3 linked regions of the Homo sapiens genome follow. The protein of the gene in region 1 interacts with the protein of each later gene in a biochemical or structural test. Each region holds a gene or a part of one and is shown in the gene's direction. Other genes may lie near its edges. The genes, in order: PDZRN4, DOCK4 and SLC16A7.

Region 1 (3,657 bases):
CACAGTTGTTCTTTTTCAAATACATACTTGCAAAGTAAGTATAGGAAAATGTCAACCTTCTGCCACATTCAACCATCCTTAATTTTAAAGTTTTCCTCTTTTCACATGTCAGTTAACTTACAGTACATAAAAACTTATTGTAGGATTTATTTTTCTTTTATATTTTTACCTGGTTAAGTCATTTTATACATTTTTTTCTAGGATGGAGAGCATAAGCCATTCACTATTGTGTTAGAAAGAGAAAATGACACTTTGGGATTCAATATTATAGGAGGTCGACCAAATCAGGTAAAACACCTTGTTAATGCATTACTCGTTACTTATAAAATAAGCATTAATAAGCATTACTCATTGCTTATAAAATAATAGAGGACTTAGCTTTTGTTTGTGGATTTTGAGTAAGAAAAACAAGTGGTTTAATCTTTAAAATTATACTTGTGATCAAATATCAGATTTCTTAATGCAAATATTCCAGTACATACCCAGATTTTATTTATTTATTTATTTATTTATTTATTTATTTATTTATTTTGTTTGTTTGTTTGAGACAGAGTCTTGCTCTGTTGCCCAGGCTAGAGTGCAGTGGCACGATCTCAGCTCACTGCAACCTCTTCCTCCTGGGTTCAAGCAATTCTCCTGCCTCAGCCTCCCAAATAGCTGGGATTACAGGCTCCTGCCACCACACCCGGCTAATTTTTTGTATTTTTAGTAGAGACAGGGTTTCACATGTTGGCCAGGCTCGTTTTGAACTCCTCACCCCAAGTGATCCACCTCACGGTCTCCCAAAGTGCTAGGATTACAGGTGTGAGCCACCATGCCTGGCTCTGATTTTATTATTTTTTAATTTTTAAAAATTATTTTCTTTTTGAGTTGGAGTATCACTCTGCAGCCCAGGCTGGAGTGCAGTAGCGTGATCTCAGCTCAATGCAACCACTGCCTCTGGTTCAATTGATTCTCCTGCCTCAACCACCCAAGTAGCTGGGATTATAGGCGTGTGCCACCACGCCCAGCTAATTTTTGTATTTGTAGCAGAGAAAATACAAAATGTTGGCAAAGCTGGTCTCGAACTCCTAATCTCAAGTGATCCACCTCCCTCACCTCCCAAAGTGCTGGGATTACAGGCTTGAGCCACTGCACCTGGCCTTTATTTTTGAGAAAAACAAAAAACAACAGCTAGCAAACTTGGTTCTCTTTGCTACTTTAAAAGAAGAAAAGGAAAGTACATTTCACATTTTATCTAAATTTTATTGTCCTTTTGGCAAATTTCTTGAATAAACCTATTTCACAATACCATGTGTAGGCAATTTCTATTTGATAATATTAGGCAATTGTATTGCCTGCTTAAACCTATTTATTAAGTGCAATTACTCAGTTTGAAGATGCTAATACAGACTAGGAAGAAAATTATATTGAATGAATGAATGAACAGTTGAAACAAGGGATGATTGATTTCAATAGGAAGTACCATGTTAAAGAAAAACAGTTGATTAGAAATATTTTTGGCTCCCCAAACCGAGTTCTTTGTTTGATTGCATGAATAATATTCTTCATGTTGATGTCAATTGTTTTCAAAATGCATATTTTAAACTTATAGAATATACTGTAGTTGCAAAGTTCTTTTATATCTTTGAATTCCTGTGTCAACTTAATTTTCACCGTAACTGGAAAAAGGTGGTTAAGTTTTAAAAAATGATGTTCTTTAATTTTTCTCAATAAACTGCCATGAAATTTTTGCATCCTGCATTGCAGATGTTGTACAAGGAAACTGTCTTAGTGTTGTTGGCCATATGCTCTGTTTAGGTAAGGATGGCAGTGACATATTTCTTCCTTGTTTTTAGTATTTTGAAAACTTAGCAACTAATGACTGCTGTGCTTCTCTTTTTAAAACAGTCCTCATTTATTAAGATGAAAGCCTTTTCATCATAGCATTTTCGTTATCATTTTCCCTAAGGAATATTTTTATAGATTCTATTTTGGTATTTGACATTTAGATGACATCGGGCCTTTTTAAAAAGTCTCTTAAAATTCATGATAAGGACAGCTAAAGAGAAATAATTTTATTTAACCTGTCATGAAGTCAAATGACATTTAAAATTATATAATGTATTATTATAGGATGTTGGATATTTTCCCCTAAATAAGCTTTGACTTCTTGTGACTGGCTAAAATGTCCTATTTTTACCATATTGGCTATGTTTGAGGTTTAACTAATCATGAGTCAGACTGCACCTGGAAATATGTAACGATGAGTTTGCATGGGTTCCCTTTTGCATAGGTTCCCTTGCAGTTTAGATGTGATCTTTTGGGATTTTACACTTGAGTAAGCTACCAGTGTCTCTTGTGAATAGACACAACTAGAGCTATGTTTCTAAATCTGGCACATCAAAAAGCTAAATTACATTTCTAAACTCTACCACATCTCAAACCAGTTATACAGTGGGAACCAGATATATGTTTTTTTCCTTCTTTAACCTTATCACCCTTTTACTTGCTGTCTCTCTTTAGAAGTGAGATGTTTTATAAATAATACTTAAAAGCCAGTTTATTTCACCTTGTACATGCCCTTTCCCATAGCTTTTTTATGTGAACTCAAAAATGTGAAGTAAATAGATAATCTTGTCAGAGACCCTGGACTCATTCATTAAAACTGCCACCTTGATTAATGACTAGTTGGTGTTAAGTAAGTTAAAATTCTGTTCCAAATCCCCAGCTAAGAGAGTTGCAGGTTTACAGAGGATTGGTAATGTTACATTTGGTAAATTGTCCCTAATAATATTTAAATTTTGCTTACATCTTTCTTCTGCTAATGATTTTTTAAAAATAGAATAATCAGGAAGGAACATCGACTGAAGGAATTTACGTTTCAAAAATTTTAGAAAATGGACCTGCTGACAGAGCAGATGGCCTGGAGATTCATGACAAAATCATGGAGGTAAGACAATGATAAAACATGTATATGATCCATGCAAGAAAGATTGGGATATTTTAAGTTTTCAAATTTACCACTTTACCTTGGTGTGGTGCTTATTAGAATATACATTCTTAGTAGCAGTAAAGGCATTATCATTTTTACTTTCTTACAAAAAATGTAAAAGTCACTGGGAGAGGTGGCTCATGCCTATAATCCCAGCACTTTTGGTGGCTGAGGCAGGAGCATCACGTGAGCTTAGGAGTTCGAGACCTGACTGGGCAACATTGTGAGACTTCATCTCTACCAAAAAACAAAACAAAAAAATTAGCTGGGCATGGTGGCACATACCTATGGTCCCAGCTACTCAGGAGGCTGAGGTGGGTGGATCACTCGATGTTAAACCCAGGAGGTCAAGGCTGTGGTGAGCTGTGTGTAGGCCACTGCTCTCTAGCCTAGGCAACAGAGCAAGACGCTGCCTCCAAAAAGAAGTAAAACTCTATTATGATTCTATATAATTCGTTAGATATTGTGATGAAAGAATAAAATGCCTGAAGTTTTCAAATGTGTTAATGAATACCTCTGTTTTAATAACCTGTGTTTCCCATGAACTATGATGTCACTTGCTTGATTATTAAAGGATTAATTATTATAACATTTCAAAAAAGGATGATAAATCTCTGTTGAGGAACATTTCTGATGAGGAACTATGATTATATTTTAAATTTGTAATTAATATTTTATATGTA
Region 2 (3,657 bases), on another chromosome or scaffold:
GCCTTCTTGCAGGGAGGATGGGCAGGCTCATCCTGACTCATTTTCTGGACCCCTGTAATCTGTTTTCCAGCCCTACTTAAATGGGCCCTAGTCCTCATTCTCCACTGCTGCCACTTGGTAGCCAGCATAGCCACCTCCTTCCTCCCCACACTCCTCACATTGAGCAGGGTCCTGATGGCCCCTGCAACTGCCTCACTTTAAAGGAAGGGAAAGAGAACACAAAGGAGGAGTGAGAGCTGGGATGGGGGTGGAGTGGGAAGTGAGGAGTGAATGGCAGGGGAAATGCACGAGGGATTATGAAAGAGAAGATGCCAGGGAGGGGAGGCCTCCTGAAGTGAGATGCAGGAAGTAGGAAGTAGGTAGGAGGGAAGCAGCAAACTGGGGAGAACAATAGAGCTTTGCCTTTGTCGCCCTGAGTCTCACTCTGTGGAAATATCTGATATGCCAAATATAACCAATCAGTTTTAAAAGGTTTCAGTCATACCCCAGGATGTCTGAATTACATCTGAATAGTCAACATTTTCAGGGTTTTTGGTTATGAAAACATCATAAATCTCTTTTTCAAAGTCAGTATTTTTAAAATCACTTTATTTTTCTCATTCTAATTCCTCCTCCTCCTCTTACCCGTGTTTGTTGCAGATAAACATTCCTGTTTGGTACTGAATTCCTTACTATTAATAGTAAATCCTTTGTGAGGTTTTTCTCTTGAATCTGGCTTTGGTGGAGCTTGCTTCTCTTTCTCCTTGAGATTCTTAATGCTTTTTCTCACTGGTGTTCTCTATATTCTCTTTTTCTTTCTCATCTTACCTACTTCCTTGGTTTGGGGGGTTTGGAGTTTTTGTTCCCTCATCATCTTTCTGTTTCTCAGAAAGTCCCTTTTGGGTTTCTGCTAAAACAAGTGATTTGAAGTAAATTTCCTGCTTCCCTGCCTGGAAATTCTGTCCTGGCTCCTCTCTCGGCCAGTCTAGTCTGGCAACTCCACTGAGCCCTGAGGCCAGTTCTACCAGGTCCCGCTGCCCTGCGCGTGCTCGGCACACGCGAGCCTTCAGTTCTCACTGCATTCATTGGCCTCCAGATGCCACCTCTCCCTGCATGCGTTGGAGACTAATAATGCATGGAGACCATCTCCCACAGCCTTTGTAACTTCTGCCCAAGAAAGATAAATTTATTCCCTCCCCAGGTGAAGAGGTTCTCTAAGGACCTGCTGGACCAAAGCCCTCATGTCTGTTTAGGAAAGGGTTAAAGAGCTGGGCCCTGTGCTTATCTGGACTCTGGGATGAAAGATGGCCTGTGGAGTCCAGGAGCTGCTCTTCTCAGGTTGAGAGCTCCCTGGATGATCTAAGAAATCACTGGGCCTGTTACCATTCTTTTAGTCTGCAAGATTTGGGTCACATTGCCAAGAAGACCTTTGTTCCTGGGTGGAGTTGGTTGCTAGGCAGAGTGCTATGTGCTGGGCACCCAAACGGGAATAAAGCAGGTTCCCAGCCCTCAAGAAACTCTCATCTTTCCAGGAGGAGGCAGAAAAATTAATCAACAAATATTTGTCACCTGCCTGATTTGTAAGGATTTGTAAGTGCTACTGTGATGTGGAAGCATGTAGAAGGGACAGTTAGCTCGAGATTTCAGGAAAGGCTTCCAAAATGAAGCAACATCCGATCTGAGGACTAAAGGATGGGTAGGAGTTTGTAAGTCAAGAGCAGTGGAGAGGAAACAGAATACAGTGAAATAAATGCCATCCTAGAGAGGGCTAGTCATAGTTTGTGGGAGCCTGCAACTTGAGTGGCTAGGAGAGGGGAGCCACATGTGTTAAGAATTTTACTTTTACTAGCAGAACGCTTTCATGTGAGGACCTGTTCTCTATTAAGGCAATTAATCTTCCTTTTCTATTTTGAAAGGTGATATGCTTGATCTTTTGAAATGGAGAACCCACCCAGACAAGATCACTGGCTGTCTCTCTAAATTAAAAGAAATTGATGGCTCAGAGATAGTAAAGGTATATAGTATTTCATTACTATTTTCCTTGCAGAGATTCATAGAATAAAGAACATTTGGAGGAAAAAGACAGATAGTATCTTATTTACTCATTTGCTACTTCTTTATCTAACAGTTTCTGCAGGATACACTGGATACCTTATTTGGAATTTTAGATGAAAATTCCCAAAAATATGGGTCTAAAGTGTTTGATTCTTTGGTAAGTTCAAATTCCCTTAATTGTATTTTAACTGTTTTGTCTCTCAATCTTGACTTTCATGAGGCTGGTTCAGAAACATGTGCTTAATAATGTAAGAGTTCATTTTAAAAAGAAGCAAAAAAAAAAGGAAAACCTTGATTTGCATTTAGTTTTATAAAGCTCAATTTTCTTTTTTTAGGTTCACATAATAAATTTGCTGCAAGATAGCAAATTTCATCATTTTAAACCTGTAATGGACACTTACATTGAGAGTCATTTTGCTGGGGCACTTGCATACAGGTAAGGCCCTGTATCTTGTAATTAGTTTAGAAGTGGTTCCTTTCAAGCTTTTCTCAGCAGAAGAGGCGATATAGGAAAATTTAAAAGGGAGTGTAGGAAGAAATGGAGCACTACTGAAGTGTCTCTTGAGATAGTCTCTTCCCTGCTAACACACCCTTTTTAAATGGGTAGAACTTATTTTGATTAAAAAGGGAAAAAAACCTCCTGAATTCTATTCCTGAGCCCTAAAATATAAAGTCTTTCCTTCTTGTCTCTGTTTCACTGGATATTCTTTGGTCTAAAATGTCTGGTTATCTCACTTCGGCTGTTAAGAGTCCCACTTCATCACTGTACTCCCTGATGATTATAAATGTTCATAAGAAAGAAATATGAATGGAAAACAACCTTTTCCTTCACACCTGCTGAAAGTCATCCATTCATTTATGTTAGGATTTACTGAGTGCCAGCTGCTTGCCAGGCACTGTACTTTATGCTGATGATGTGAAGACCTGGTCCCTGGCCTCAGGCAATTTAGTCATTGGGATCTACTCTTTGATAGGAGCTGCTATTTTAACTGCTCCTCCTTTTCTACTGGCTCAGGTGGTGCTGAAAAGTTATGAATAATATTATGCTTTGGCTAGTGCCTGCCTCCTCTCAACATAGTTGATAATTGCCAGAGGCCACAGCTTCTCTCTTTTAGTTCGACAAATAACTGCTTAAATAGCCTTGGAGTGTACCCCATCGTCTGTCTCCCAGTCCAATATGGTCCTTGCTGTTCTCCCATATTTCTACCTTATACCTTAAGCACCTGTGGGCATGCACATGCCTGACTGTTCCCTGAGGTGAGTTTAAAAAGCATGAAATCAGGTTGATATCCTTCCCCCATCTATGTAATATATAAAGGTTAATAGGTTATCAGATAAGCATTTGATCCTGTTTACTTGGATATTCCCAGCCATGACAGGTTAAGATCGACGTCTCCAACATCGAAATGAATGAAGGTATTTTTGTTAGACTTGACACTTCATCAGTGTGATTTTTTGCTGAGAGTGAAATGCAACCGCAGGAATAGTTTTGAAACATCGGCCCACTCAGCCTAACAATTTGGGCCCTAGTGTGAGGAGGTTACTGCTTCCAAGTTAAATTGTCTTTGGAAGCTAGAAAACAAGAGTATAATTTCTCACACTTCCGGTTGGCCAGGAAAGCAG
Region 3 (3,657 bases), about 19 Mb from region 1:
CCATACAGTTACATATTAATTTTCATCATTTAATACAACTTACCCTACACCGTAGCTTATTTTTCAAGTTTCTCTGAACATCTTTGTTGTCATTCACCTCTTTGTCTATTTGTTCTGTAGAGAAAACAAGTGTCATTGCTTTTGTCTTCTCCATCTAGACTTTTGCAGTCCTTAGACTATAGTTCTCCTTAGCTCTATTCAAATAGTGCACTTGCAAGGCGCTGCATTCTTCTCAAAGTCAGCCATGATGCACATATTTATAATTACATACACATATAATTGAATATGATTTTAGAGTCTTGAAAAACTGATCTTCTTTGGCACTATCCTGAATGTTTCTGATTTTCTTAAAGTGCCTGACAATATTGAGTAACAAAGCTTACCATCACCACATTGCACCATTATGTATTATTCTGTCTCCATCAATGCAGTGACATCACTGATACATCATACCAACAAGATTTCTAACCACAACCATTCAGAGCACTAATTAGCATCTATATTGAGAATATAAGATTAATATTACAAACTTGACTTTACTCATCTCTCTTTAAGATTTTGATTTCTGCACAACCATATGCAGAACTCATGTTTGAGAAGGCACTTAAAAGCTGAAAGGCCCAATTATCAGTAATTATAATGCTTGCATGATCAAAATTACAAATTATCTTTGTTGATACAATTAAAAATGAGTAATTTTCTGAGCTTATGTCACTTTTTTATAGTTCTGATTTTCTCTTCTTTCCTATCAGTTGTTTGTACACTGGAGATTTTAGCTCTTTACAGGGTGCTACAATCTGGTTTATTTTAGTCTTCTCTCCTCTACTGCTTTTTCTTCACTTTAATTCATTTATGTGCAAATCAGGGAAGAATTGCTGTAGTATTGAGAATGGTCATTTTAAAAGTCTCTACCTTAAGAGCAAAATTAATATTGCAAAATGAATTTTTGATTTTACAGAAGCATATGGGAATTTAGATCAAATTACATCTCCCATCCCAATCTCCTGCTTCTTCATCATCTCCTAAATGTTTTCCTTTCTATGTTTTTATAATATCTAGGTAAAACTTGTTTAGCATTTTTTATTTAATTATGGACATATTTAGTATGGACTTTTGTTTCTTTGGTATAGTTAGTTACACTTGTTTGCATGATCTACATGTTTTTCAGTCTCCATATATACTTGTTAATAAGGTGAGCAATATTCAGGAATATTTCAGTAGGCAATTAATGATCATAAATTTATTCACATTTCAGTAAATATTTTTCACATGATCAAACAGGATTTTTTGTTTCTTTTTAATTTAAATATGGCAAAATAAGCTAGAGAATCTCAGTGTGAAAACACTGATACTGAACATTCTATTAAAATAGAATAAGTTCGTGTAGGGACATGGATGAAATTAGAAATCATCATTCTCAGTAAACTATCGCAAGAACAAAAAACCAAACACCGCATATTCTCACTCATAGGTGGGAACTGAACAATGAGAACACATGGACACAGGAAGGGGAACATCACACTCTGGGGACTGTGGTGGGGTCGGGGGAGGGGGGAGGGATAGCATTGGGAGATATACCTAATGCTAGGTGACGAGTTAGTGGGTGCAGCGCACCAGCATGGCACATGTATACATATGTAACTAACCTGCACATTGTGCACATGTACCCTAAAACTTAAAGTATAATAATAATAAATAAAATAAAATAAAATAATAAAAATAAAAATAAAATAGAATAAGTTGATAAAAGCTCCTCTGTTCAGAAAAACAAAAGAATGGCATTTTATCTCACATAAATTTAGGATGAAATTTTAAAACATTCTTTTGACTAAGACTTTAATTCTTATATGCATCTAAAATAAATGTTTTGAGTTAGACTCAGTTTATATAGCTTCCTCGTTAGAGTACACATTTTTTTTCTCATCCTCCGAATCTCAAGAGTACATATTTCTGACAAGCTTTTCAATGGTACGATGGATTTTATTTTTCTATCATCAACTTTCTATATTTAACTAAAGCATTAGTATTTCTAGATTTAGTGAAATAGCAAATATGAATTAAAATATTTATTTCTAAACATTAGATCTAATTGTATTTTGATTTGTTTTGATATATTTATGTCTCAGAAGATATGTTTAATGAATTCATTTCATCCTCTCAACCCTCAGTTTTGATAGGTATCCACATTTTTACCATATAAAACTAGACTGGATTAAGGATTTTGCCTAAACCTATACCAATACTCTGAATAAATGCAGGGTTGGAGATAGAATTCAGGTCTTTTAACTTCTAACACACTTTTTTCTCCATTGCACTACAGAAGCCGTAAGGTCATAATGATGATCTTTGTAGAGTAAATAAAATATTTTCCTAGAAATATATATAACAACCCTACTTGATAGTTTATAGCCCAAATGAATATATTTTTCCAATCATGGTTTGCAAAATCATGTTTGCAAACTTACTTTGAAGACTATTTCCTGATTGCCACGGCAGATAATTCGTGGCAAATCAGAAATAATATTTAGTGAGATTAATTATTTTGCACAATATATGTTGTTATAGCAATATCAAAATCATTTAAAACATCAATATTGTATTAATAGAAAACATGTCAATATCTCATTAATTCCTTTTTTATTTTATGTTCCTTTTTATTTTAGAAGCAGTGTTCATTTTTTTCTGAAGTAGAACGCCAGAGCACAGAACACACAGTTCAAGTTTAAATTATTAAATTGTATGCAAGAAATTATTGCCATAGCATAGTCTTGAGGAGAACACCTCTACAGTATTTCTTGATCTAAGAACCTGAACATATGTTAATGAAATTATTAGAGTAAGTTCTATCTCAAAAATTTCTTATTTTATGAATGTTTTCTTCACCTAATAAACAATACTAAAATCCATAACAGCTGTCTGGCAACAGTGTAATTAGAGCTTCTTTTATGTTAGAGATTCCATCTACCTCTGCATCTTATCTAGCTAGATACAGTCTTTCTAAACTTTCTCCTTTATTCCCATGTAGAGAACAAACAAAAATCACACCTAAATTAAAGATCTGTGGTGAAGGGGAAGAGGGGTTGCTATTAGGAGTTTTCCCGGTAAAACTGTAAAAACAGTAATCTGCATTCAGTATTTGTTTGCCTAGTTCATCAAGATATTTACCCTAAAAACACATTTTAATAAAAATTTGGGTAAACTCATGTATCGCAGTAAAATCTTTTATGAATTGGGTGGGCCCTAAAAACATCTGTAGTACGTGATGTGTTTGGTTAGATTCAGCCAAACCGACACCCGTATGCTAAGACTGCATTGTCATTCTGACAGGAGGCAGGCCTCAGTAGTTGCAGTGAGTGCATTTACTAATATAAGGATCCTTCTTTGTAGTGACAACAAAAATGAGATTGTAACTTAATCAAATATGAGTCAGATATAGTAATTCCTGATATTGCAGATGAAAGAGCAGGGTCTTTTCAAGTGCTTGCTACAACTGACTAAATTTGAAGCTTTTTATGTAAAAGTTCTTCTCCCAGATATTTTAAACCAGTATGTTAATTATTTCCTAGAATGAATAATTCTCCTTTTTTGATAGATTTTTGAAATTGTTTTACTTACTACTTACATACTTTGAACAAATATGTTTTTCTAATCCCAGCA

What was found.
Region 2: the proteins of PDZRN4 (region 1) and DOCK4 interact in a test that uses a peptide from one of them, tested with the Homo sapiens proteins (one large-scale study listed by IntAct).
Region 3: the proteins of PDZRN4 (region 1) and SLC16A7 interact in a test that uses a peptide from one of them, tested with the Homo sapiens proteins (one large-scale study listed by IntAct).

The regions. Positions count from the first base shown.
Region 1 is NC_000012.12:41,191,257-41,194,913, forward strand, and holds part of PDZRN4 (PDZ domain-containing RING finger protein 4), read left to right. Parts: intron 1-201; coding exon 202-288; intron 289-2,824; coding exon 2,825-2,932; intron 2,933-3,657.
Region 2 is NC_000007.14:111,870,803-111,874,459, reverse strand, and holds part of DOCK4 (dedicator of cytokinesis protein 4), read left to right. Parts: intron 1-1,895; coding exon 1,896-1,993; intron 1,994-2,107; coding exon 2,108-2,191; intron 2,192-2,369; coding exon 2,370-2,470; intron 2,471-3,657. UniProt on the Homo sapiens protein: Functions as a guanine nucleotide exchange factor (GEF) that promotes the exchange of GDP to GTP, converting inactive GDP-bound small GTPases into their active GTP-bound form. Involved in regulation of adherens junction between cells.
Region 3 is NC_000012.12:59,784,499-59,788,155, forward strand, and holds part of SLC16A7 (monocarboxylate transporter 2), read left to right. Parts: 3' UTR 1-3,657. UniProt on the Homo sapiens protein: Proton-coupled monocarboxylate symporter. Catalyzes the rapid transport across the plasma membrane of monocarboxylates such as L-lactate, pyruvate and ketone bodies, acetoacetate, beta-hydroxybutyrate and acetate.